2 separate regions of the Homo sapiens genome follow, and region 1 is linked to region 2. The links come from fine-mapping of genetic effects on gene expression. A gene starts in region 2. The other region holds a variant in brackets. All regions are shown on one strand. Distances are from middle to middle.

Region 1 (5,370 bases), 27 kb after region 2:
CACCATTTTTGTCAGGATCCCTCTTGCTTGTTCTGGGTTAGGTTCATCACAAAGCTGCTTAGATGGACTTGGTTATTCAAGTAAATATTAAGCGCTAACTGTGTGTAGGATGATGGATTGGGACACAACTCCATATGCTTTTTATTTCCATTATTTTTATAACTTTCTCTTATATTGATATTTTAGTAACATGGTAACAAATTTAAACAATAGAAGAAAGTAGAAGTTAAAAGTCAGTGACAGTTCCCACCCATTCCCCAGTTCCCTCAACCACTCTTGTCAATCTCTTCTTTCCATCTCCAAAGATATCCAGCATTTGCATGGATCCAGTCCAGTTTGTAGGCAGTTGGTAGCATGCCACGCATACTCTTGCCCTTGCTTTTATCACTCATGTCTTGAACAGCATTTTATGTCAGCCCTCCAGAACTTCCTCTTTCTTTTTAATCATTACAGAGTATTGCACTGATAAATGTACCTAACATTGAGCTAACAAGTTGCTGTTTTTTGTTTTGGTTTTGGTTTTGCCTATTAACATGCATTAATGTCATGGTTAGCCTTTTGTAATTATAATCGATTTATTGTTGTATATGTCCTTGTTGTATCCATGCAAATATATCAGCAAGATTAGTTCCTAGAAGTGGAATTCCTGGGTCGAAGAGTGTTATAGCAGTCCTTTGGGGCTGCTATAACAAATACCATACACTGAGAAACTTACAAGTAGCAGAAATTTATTGCTCATGGTTCTGGAGGCTGGGAAGTCCAAAATCAAGGAGCCAGCAGATTTGATTTGGGGAGGGCTGCTCTCTGCTTCCAAGATGGCACCTACCTGTGGCGTCCTTACCTGGTGGAAGGAGCAGACAAGCTCCCTTAGGGCTCTAATAATTTTTCTTTTTTTTTTTGACACGGAGTTTTGCTCTTGTTGCCCAGGCTGGAGTGCAATGGTGTGATCTTGGCTCACCGCAACCTCCACCTCCCACGTTCAAGCAATTCTCCTGCCTCAGCCTCCTGAGTAGCTGAGATTACAGGCATACGCCTCCATGCCCAGCTAATTTTGTATTTTTATTAGAGATGGGGTTTGTCCATATTGGTCAGGCTGGTCTCAAACTCCCGCCCTCAGGTGATCCACCTGCCTCGGCCTCCCAAAGTGCTGGAATTACAGGCATGAGCCACCATGCCCAGCCTCTAAAAAGAACACTAATCCCATTCATGAGGGCTCCACACTGGTGACCTAGTCACCTCCCAAAGGCCCTACCTGTTAATGCCAGCACACTGGGATTCGATTACAACACAAAAATTTTAGAGGGGCACAAACATTCAGCCCATAGCTAAGAGTATGCATATTTAAAACTTGTGATGGTTTGGCCAAATCATCCTTCAGAAAGGACACTCCCATGAACATTATGTATTAGGACGGGACGGGCTATGCTGTAGGAACAATTAGTCCCCCAAATCTTAGTATTTAACACAGCAAAGGCTTGTTTTTTCTCTTGCGTCACATCTGATGCAGATGGGGTGGCTCTCTAAGCAGCATCCCAGGGATCCAGGCTGCTTCCATTGTGAACTAAGCCAGTTGGAACATGTGGCCTCCACTGTTGCCACAGCCAGGGGAGAGAGGCCTGGATGAATGTGTGGGAAAATTTTAAGCAAAGTGGCTTACATCACTTTCACCCACATCCTACCTGTCAGAACCAGTCATATGGCCTCAGCCTGACTGCAAAAGAGTCTGGGCAATGTGGAGGAGCCCCTGGCCACTCGATGAGCCTCACGTCTCTGCCAGTCGGTTCCCCAGAAATTCACCCACACAGTATATTCCAGGGCGTTTTGTTCTTCGCTAATTAAATATATGAAAAATGGCGTCATGTAGACTGTCGTTCTGCCCTGCACGTCTGTGCTTTCTTTGGGCAGTTGCCCTCCGCCTTTTTCTGCTGAAATATTCATAGGGGATTATGTTCACTCCAGACACACTCCAGTGGCCTTCCCCAAATTTTCCCAAAACCCCAAAACCTTTTGTGGGGAAGCCCTAAGACATTCTATATTTTGGCTGTTACAGGCATACCTCAGAGGTATTGCAGGTTCAGTTCCAGACCACTGCAACAAAATTAATATCACAATAAAGCAAATCACACAAATTTTTTTGTTTCCCAGTGCATATAAAATTTACATTTACACGGCCGGGTGCAGTGGCTCGCACCTGTAATACCAGCACTTTGGGAGGCCAAGTCAGGCGGATCACCTGAGGTCAGGAGTTCGAGACCACCCTGGCCAACATGGTGAAACCCCGTCACTACTAAATATACAAAAAATTAGCCAGGCATGGTGGCAGGCACCTGTAATCCCAGCTACTCGGGAGGCTGAGGCAGGAGAATCGCTGGAACCCGGGCGGCAGAGGTTGCAGTGAGCCGAGATACATGCCATTGCACTCCAGCCTGGGCAACAAGAGCAAAACTCTGTCTGAAAAAAAAAAAGTTACTTTTATACTATACTGTAGTCTATTAAGTGTACAGTAGTATGTCTAAAAAAAGTACATAACTTAAAAATACTTTATTTGCTGAAAAAAATGCTAACAATCATCTGAGACTTTAGCAAGCGACTTGTAGTCTTTTTGCTGGAGAGGGTCTTGCCTCAATGTTGATGGCTGCTGACTAACTGCTGAAGAGTAGGGTGGCTATGGCAATTTCTTTCTTTCTTTTTATTTTTTTTGTTTTTGTTTTTTGTGTTTTGAGACAGGGTCTTGCTCTGTTGCCCAGGCTGGAGTGCAATGCCACAATCATGGCTTGCAGCAGCCCTGATCACCTTGGCAATGCCCCGACCTCAGCCTTCCGAGTAGTTGGAACCACAAGTGCATGTCACCACACCCAGCCTATGTTTTTATTATTTGCAGAGACACAGTCTCACTATGTTTCCCAGGCTGGTCTCGAACTCCTGGGCTCAAGGAGTTCCTGGGCCCGCTTGGGCCTCCCAAAGTGATGGGATTACAGGTGTGAGCCACTGCACCCAGCCACAATTTCTTAAAATAACACAACAATAAAGTTTGCTGCATCAATTGACTCTTCTTTTCATGACGGATTTCTCTGTAGCATGCAATGCTGTTTGATTCACAGTAGCACTTCTTTCAAAATTAGAGTCAATTCTTTCTAACTCTGCTGCTGCTTTATCAACTAAGTTTATGGAATATT[CT/C]TTTTTTTTTTTTTTTTTTGAGATGGAGTTTCACTTTTGTTGCCCAGGCTGGAGTGCAGTGGCACGATCTCGGCTCACTGCAACCTCCACCTCCCAGATTCAAGCAATTCTACTGCCTCAGCCTCCAGAGTAGGTGGGATTACAGGCGTCCGCCACCACGCTTGGCTAATTTTTTGTATTTTTAGTAGAGGCAGGGTTTCACCATGTTGGCCAGGCTGGTCTTGAACTCCTGATCTCAGGTGATCCACCTGCCCCGGCCCCCCAAAGTGTGGGGATTACAGGTGTGAGCCACCACTCCCAGACAATTTATAGAATATTCTAAATCAAGCTTGTCCAACCCGCAGGCCACGTGCAGCTCAGGACGGCTTTGAATGTGGCCCAACACAAATTTGTAAATTTTCTTAAAATATTATGAGATTTTCTTTGCGTTTTTTGTTTGTTTGTTTTCTCATCACATATCGTTAGTTGTTAGTGTATTTTATGTGTAGAACAAGGCAATTCTTCTTCCAGTGTGGCCCAGGAAAGCTAAAAGACTGGACACCCTGCTCCAAATCCTTTGTTGTCATTCACAGCATCTTCACCAGGAGTAGCTTCCATCTCAAAAACCACTTTCTTGACTCATACATAAGAAGCAACTCATTCATTCAAGTTTTATCATGAGATTGCAGCAATTCGCTCATATCTGCAGGCTTCATGTCTAATTCTAGTTTTCTCTTATTACTTCCACCACATCTGCAGTTCATTTCTCCACTGAAGTCTTAAACCCCTCAAAATCATCCACATGGATCCACTTCCTCCATCCACTTCTTAGCATCCACTTCTTCTAAATTAGCATCCACTTCTTCCACATTCCTATTCATGTTGATATTTTCACCTCCTCTCCTGAGTCACAAATGTTCTTACTGGCATCTACAATGGAAGGTTTTCAGTTTACTTTGCCCAGATCCAACAGAGGAATCACTGTCTATTGCAGCTATAGCCTTACAAAATGTATTTCTTAAATAATGTAACTTGAGGGTCAGATATGGTGGTTCACGTCTGTAATCTCAGCACTTTGGGAGGCCAAGGGAGGAGGATTGTTTGAGGCCAGGAGTTCAAGACCAGCCTGGGCAACATAGTGAGACATCTCTACAAATTAAAATTTAAAAATTAGCCAGGAGGCCGGGTGCAGTGGCTCACATCTGTAATCCCAACACTTTGGGAGGCTGAGGTGGGTGGATCACCTGAGGTCAGGAGTTCAAGACCAGCCTGGCCAACATGATGAAACCCTGTCTCTGCTAAAAATACAAAAATTAGCCAAGCGTGGTGGCGGGCACCTGTAATCCCAGCTACTTGGGAGGCTGAGGCAGGAGAATCGCTTGAACTCGGGAGGCGGAGGTTGCAGTGAGCCGAGATCACGCCACTATACTCCAGCCTGGGTGACAAAGCGAGACTCCATTCAAAAACAACAACGAAAATTAGCCAGGTGAAATACCATGCACCTGTAGTCCCAGCTACTTGGGAGGCTGAGACAGGAGGATCACTTGAGCCCAGGAGTTTGAGGCTACAGTAAGCCATAATCATGCTACTGCATTCCAGCCTGGGTGACAGAGTAAGAAAACCCTGTCTCAAAAAAAAAAAAAATTAATTAATTAAAAAACAGACTTGAAAGTCAAAATTACTCCTTGATCCATGGGCTGCAGAATTAATGTTGTGTTAACAGGCATGAAAACATTACTCTCCTCTTACCTGTCCATCAGAGCTCTTGGGAGACCAGGTGCATTGTCAATGAGCAGTAGTATTTTAAGCAGTAGGTGTCAACAGTGGGCTTAAAATATTGAATAAATCATACTGTAAACAGATATGCTGTCATCCAGGCCTGTTCCATTTACAAGCACAGGCAGAGTACATCTTGCTTAATTGTTAAGGTCCCTAGGAGTTTTAGAAGGGTCAACGAGCATTGGCTTCAGCTTAAAGTCACCAGCTACCTTAGCCCCTAACAAGAGAATCAGTCTGTCCTTTGAAGCTTTGAAGCCAAGCATTGACTTCTCCTCTCTAGCTATGGAAGTCCTAGATGGTATCTTCTTTCAATAGAAGGCTGTTTGGTCTACATCGAAAACCTGTTGATTATTGTAGCCACCTTCGTCAGTGATCTTAGCTAGATCCTTGGGATAACTTGCTGCCAATTCTCCATCAGCACTTCCTGCTTTACCT
Region 2 (5,370 bases):
AGGAGTTGTCGGCTGGGGCTGTTGCGGGGGTGGTGGGAGACGGGGGTGGTGGGAGACAAGTCTGGTGAGTAGGATTTGGAAAGTGGAGCAGTACTGGCAGAGGGAAGGGCGGTTACGGAGAGTGAAGAAAGCCTGAACATAAGGAATCTCAGACCATTTCCCACTGCGATGGCAAAAGTCGTCTAAGTCTCTAAGTATATTGAAATCAAAAGTGCCATTTTCAGGCCATTGGGAGCCATTGTCCAATTGGTATTGAGGCCAAGTGGTATTGCAGTAAAAGATAAGTCTCTTAGAACGGACCTCTGAATGGAGGCTGAGAGCCTTGAGATTGCAGAGGAGACAGCCAAGGCGGGTGGTCTTGGGATGGGTAGACTGAGAGGCTCCCATAGTGAATGGAGGGTGGGGGGTAGAGGAAGAAGAGACTGCAGATGACAAGGATGGCGAGAGAGGGTGTCCCCTGTCCTGCAGGCCTTGTCTGGAATAGAGGCAGCCACCGAGTCAGGTGTCCTTCAGGTCTCCTCTATTCTGGACAAGGCCCTTGGGTGAGGGGTGATAGGAGAGAGAGAGGGGAGGGGGGAGAGGGAGAGAGAGAGAGACACCTCTAAGGACACGCAGCCAGAGCCTGTCCCCTTCCTGGGTTTCGGCACCAAAATGTAACGTTAGCTGAGAGAAAGGACAAGAGAGAGACCCAAAGTTAGGCGAGTAAGTTTATCCTGCCGGGCTGCTCCACCACAGTCAGAGGAGGCAGCCCTGGAGCTTATAAAATGAGGGGTTCATATGGGGGAGAGAGACCCTGGGGTTGTCGGTTAACTTTACCACATATCATCTCGTGACCGCTTACAATATAGGAATTTAGAAGAGGGTGTAACTTAAGTTTATCCACATTTCTCGTGACCTTCCCCATGCTGCCTGTTGGGCTGTAAGCAAGTCTGGTGACCTTGCTGTAGCACCTAGATAAGGGTCCAGGAATGCAGCTTCGGAGTATTCAGGGTAAGGGTCAGCTGCATTGTGTGTGGGGCGGGGGGTTCCTGGGGCAACTTGTCCCTAACAGGGTCAGGATTAGTTCTATCTGGTTCTCTATTTGCTGTCCATCTGTAAATGCTGAGAATGGCAGAGGGAGGCCAAGTGTAGATAATCAGGTTTTAGCTTTTTTGGATTTTCCTACTTCTCCTGTACAGGAAATAACTTATTGTCTAAACCCCATACTATCCCATTAAATGTCAGGAGTGCTGTCTTAGGCCTGAATTAGCTCATGACGTTACGTACTGGAAGTCCCAGGAGGAATGCCCAGCAAGTGGAATCCAAGACGTTCTCGCCTTCTCGGGGACAGGGCCATCACCAGGATTCGGAAAGGAACAGGGAGGTTCGGTTTGTGTTCCAGTTCTGAGCCCTTTACCTCATCCCTCGAGAAGCTGGCCTTTGCACCCCGCAGCCGGTGCTGCCCAGCCGACCACGCCATGCACGGGAGGCGACTGGGACCCCACTTGCCTGGCAGCCCGGCCGGAGACCCAGCTGCCTGGGAGGGTCCGAAGATAATGCCAGGCAGCCCTGGCGGGCCGGGAAGACCCTCTGTCCCTCCCGTTTCCCAGTTCTTGAATTAGGGGAGCCTTGGACTGGCTGGCGGCGCAGGAAAGTGCAGGAGGGCGGATGTGGGACCTGCTGCCGCCCAGGGAGACGGTGCTCTGTTCTTTGGAACCAGGGAAACCGTCCTCCAGCCCACTTGCCCCAGGGGGGAGCAGGAAGATCCTCTCCGGGCAGAGATGATGGGGAACCCGTGCAGCCAGAGGGTCTCCCTGGCAAAGGTCGGGGGAGGGGGCGGCCGTAACGGCCCCGGGCGCTCCGGCACGGAGAAGCCAAGGGGGTTCTCCAAGCAGCCTCCACCCACCAGCCTCGCCAGGAGAGCGTGGATACCCGAGCGGCCCCAAGCGAGTCCCCGGGGACTGGAGGGCCGAGGGGCAGCGCCCGGAACAAAGGCCCGCAGAGGGGTCCTGGAGACAGCGGCTCCCCGGGGGCGGCTCCCCTCTCTCCCCTCTCTCCCCTCCTCTCCTCTCCCGCCAGCTCCTCCTTCTCCTCCCCTTCCTCCCCCAGAGGCCCGGCCGGCTCGCGGCCCGAGCAGCGCCAACTTCGCCAACGGTTCCCAAGTTGCCGGGCGCGCAGGGGTGGGAGCTGGGTGGGGTGAGGAAGAGGAGGAGGAGGAGGAGAAGGGCTCCCGGACGCCTTGGACGCGGTTCAGGAATCCGCCGCCGCTAGCCGGCTCGGGCCTGAGCGGGGAGGGCGCCAGGCAGGACCTCTCGCAGGCTCGCTGCGCAGGACGGCGCCCGCCTGGCGCCGCTTCCCTTCCAGCGTGCCGACCGGCCCCGCAGCGCCTCCATCCCTCCGGCCCGCCCCGGAGAAGACGCACAGCTCGGGCCGCGCGGGCGCCGGGGCCGCGGAACCGCTTCTGCCGGGATCTTCCAGGAGGAAAGCGAAGTTGCGAGCGGATGCTGCCCGCGCCGGACCCCAGCCGCGGAGGGTCGGGGCCGCCGGTGGAGTCTCGGCGGCCGGGGTAAGTGGGGCGCCGGCGTCCTGGAACCGCCGCCCAGCCCGGGGGAGGCCGCCCAGCCGGGAGCCCCCGCCTTCCGCGTCCAGGCGCGCGCGCCAGACTTTGGAGGGAGAAGGGGGCGAAGCGGACGGTGGGAGGTGGAGTTCCCAGCTCGGGGAAAAGCCCAGGCAGGCACCCACAACCCGCTGCAACCGGATCACACCTGCCAGGTACACACAGCTCATCGCCACTCATACCCCGCACACGGCGCAGGCTGATCTGCGCACACCCACACCGGCCAGGCACATGCCACACACCGAAATGCACATTCCTGGGAGCGCGGGGGATTTGGCCTCTACAGCAGGCACGTCCTCACACCCCTCCGTCACATCCACGGCCTTTGTCTGCTGCCCCCGCAGCCCCCAAGGAGAGGGAGCCCCCAAAGCGCAGCGGGCAGGAGAGAGGCTGCCTGGGTTTTGAAAACTTGTGGCCAGAACCCCGAGACCAAGGGGAGCAGATGTTGCAGTCGGTTCTCGGAGTTCTGCAGGAGCGAATTTGGTGTGGAAACTCGGTGTCTGGGTGATGTGTGAGTGTGCGAAGCCCTTCCGGAGGCGAGGCCCGGAGAGAGGAGGGAGTGATTCATAAACTCAGAGCCGGCGTGCCAGGGTCTGTGAGCAGCGTGGAAGAGGCTGGCAGGCCGTTGCTGCGCTAGACAGAAGGGTAGTGGCCGTGACAGTCTTCCAGGGAAGCAGGGACCCTTCCCCCCAGCGGATGTGCTTCCTCCAGGGACTTCCAAGGGAACCGGGTGAGCAGATTCCAGTCCTGGGTGTGGACGGGGTAAGGGGAGGTGGGGGGATTTAAGCCTAAAAGGTTAGGGAGAAACCAAGGCAGGCCTGACGCCTTCATTATTTTCCTTGCACCTGAAGTTGTGTTTGGTTTCTGATGCGTGGTGTTGCTGGGCCCCAGGATGTACGGGGGATTGTCCTGGGCCTAGCATAGTGCCTGGCACAGTGGGCACTCAGTCAGTACTTGCTTGATGAATAATGACACCGGTAATTATCATTCATTATGGACTCACTGTGCGGCAAGGCCAGTGGGCCTCTGCTGGGTTGAAATTGATTTTCCAGCAGAGAAGGGGGCCTGAGTAGCTCCTAGGAGCCCTGCCTGATCTGCTTGGGCCAGTGGCCCAGGCACTGTGTGTTCCACTGTGTCCCGTGGGCTGGCCTTGGGAGACTGGAGCTCATCATTGGCCTCTGCCCCTCTAAGAGGGCAGCAGGAAAAGCTTCATTTCTGTATCTGGCTAAGATGGGGTTGATGTGGGTTTTGGTAGATGGCAGGCTGTTTGGCAGATTCTGTGGGGTCTCAATTGAAGAATAACTTTAGATCTGCAGCAGAGAGAGGGGTTGGTTCCATCAACCCTCCCATCTCCTGGCTGCTGGAGAAGAGGGGTGGGTAAGTGGAGAAAGAGATGGGCCGTGCTGCTGGGCATGTGCTGGGGGTAGGAGGAACATGGGAACATGTAGAATTTGGGGGCAGCCGTTTTTCTTCCTGGCTCCTGATGGCCTGGCTGGAGATGGGTCTCATGAAGGGTCTAGGAGCTGTGTTCTGCAGCAGTGGCTTGGCTCTGTGGTGGCAGCAGGTAGAGCAGTGGTCACAGTCCCTGTACTGAGTATTGCTGTGGGTTCTCCTGTGCCAGCTTGCATGAGTTTCCCAGAGGAGCAGAAACATTCGTGTTCCTGGAACTGGATTGCCAGTAGTCTTGGGATTGAGAGTGCACAAAGATGTGGGGGTGGCCTGGGCATGTCATCCAAAAGAAATGTGTCATTCCCCACCCCTGCCCCCTTGTGAAGAGCTCTGACTAGGTTCAGTGTGCATTTCAAACTTCTAAATGCTGAAATTAGCAAGGCATGTGGGCGGCACCAAGGACTGGCCTCAGATGAAAGAGGAGGTGATCTGGGCTTGGGCACCCCCAATTTCAGGTGGAACCCTGCAGCCAGTTCCTTCCCTATATCACCTTTCCACCTTCATTATGCCCTCTGTGAATCGAGAGTTCTGTATACATTTTCTAATTAAATCATTATATCCCTATGAGGTTAGCATTTCATCTCCATTTTGCAGATTAGGAAACTGAGGACCAGAAAAGTTAAGTAACTTTTTCAATGTCACACAGGTAGTGAGAGACAAAGCCAGTGTTTGTGTATTTGGTTTTTTTAAACTTTATGTTAGGTTCAGAGGTACGTATACAGGTTTGTTACATAGGTAAATTGTATGCCATGGGGGTTTGGTGTACAGATTATTTCATCATCCAGGTAGTAAGCATAGTACCCAATAGGTAGTTGTTGGGTTTGTTTGAGACAGGGTCTCTATTGCTCAGGCAGGAGTGCAGTGGCACGATCACTGCCACTCACCATAGCCTCGACCTCCTGGACTCAGGTGATCCTCCTGCCCCAGCCTCCCGAGTAGCTGGCACCACCATGCCTGACTAATTTTTTTGTATTTTTTGTAGAGACAGGGTTTTACCATGTTGCCCAGGCTGGTCTCAAACTCTGGAGCTCTAGCGATCTGCCTGCCTCCACCTCCCAAAGTGCTGGGATTACAGGTCTGACACACTGCACAGGCCCGAGATGGGTGGTTTTTGATCCTCACCCTCCCCACTGTCTCCACCCTCAAGTAGGTCCTGGTGTCTGTTGTTCCCTTCTTTGCGTTCAGATGTACCCAATGTTTAGCTCCCACTTCTAAGTGAGAGCATGGGGCACTTGATTTTCTGTTCCTGTGTTAGTTTGCTTAGGATAATAGCCGCTAACTCCATCCATGTTGCTGCAAAGGACATGATCTCATTCTCTTTTATG

Alleles and levels. Alleles are on the strand shown, and positions count from the first base shown. SD is a standard deviation of normalised expression in the study named.
For the expression in prefrontal cortex of the gene that starts at base 2,246 in region 2, allele C in region 1 goes with a lower level than allele CT (small effect, 0.33 SD a copy in CommonMind).

The links. PIP is the estimated chance that this variant, and not a neighbour inherited with it, causes the effect. A credible set is the group of variants that fine-mapping cannot tell apart.
Region 1: its variant is the best candidate, but not a certain one, in a credible set for the expression of CHST3 in prefrontal cortex (CommonMind, PIP 0.89).

Annotation. Positions count from the first base shown.
Region 1 is chr10:71,989,482-71,994,851 of GRCh38, forward strand. The region is part of intron 1 of CHST3 (carbohydrate sulfotransferase 3); the gene reads left to right. Among named protein-coding and RNA genes, the nearest start is that of CHST3, 28 kb to the left of the region's middle. RefSeq lists a silencer at 2,138-2,311. The variant CT/C (reference allele first, on the strand shown) is at 3,177.
Region 2 is chr10:71,962,150-71,967,519 of GRCh38, forward strand. It overlaps CHST3 (carbohydrate sulfotransferase 3), which reads left to right and starts at 2,246. Exons shown (of 3, transcript NM_004273.5): 1 at 2,246-2,545.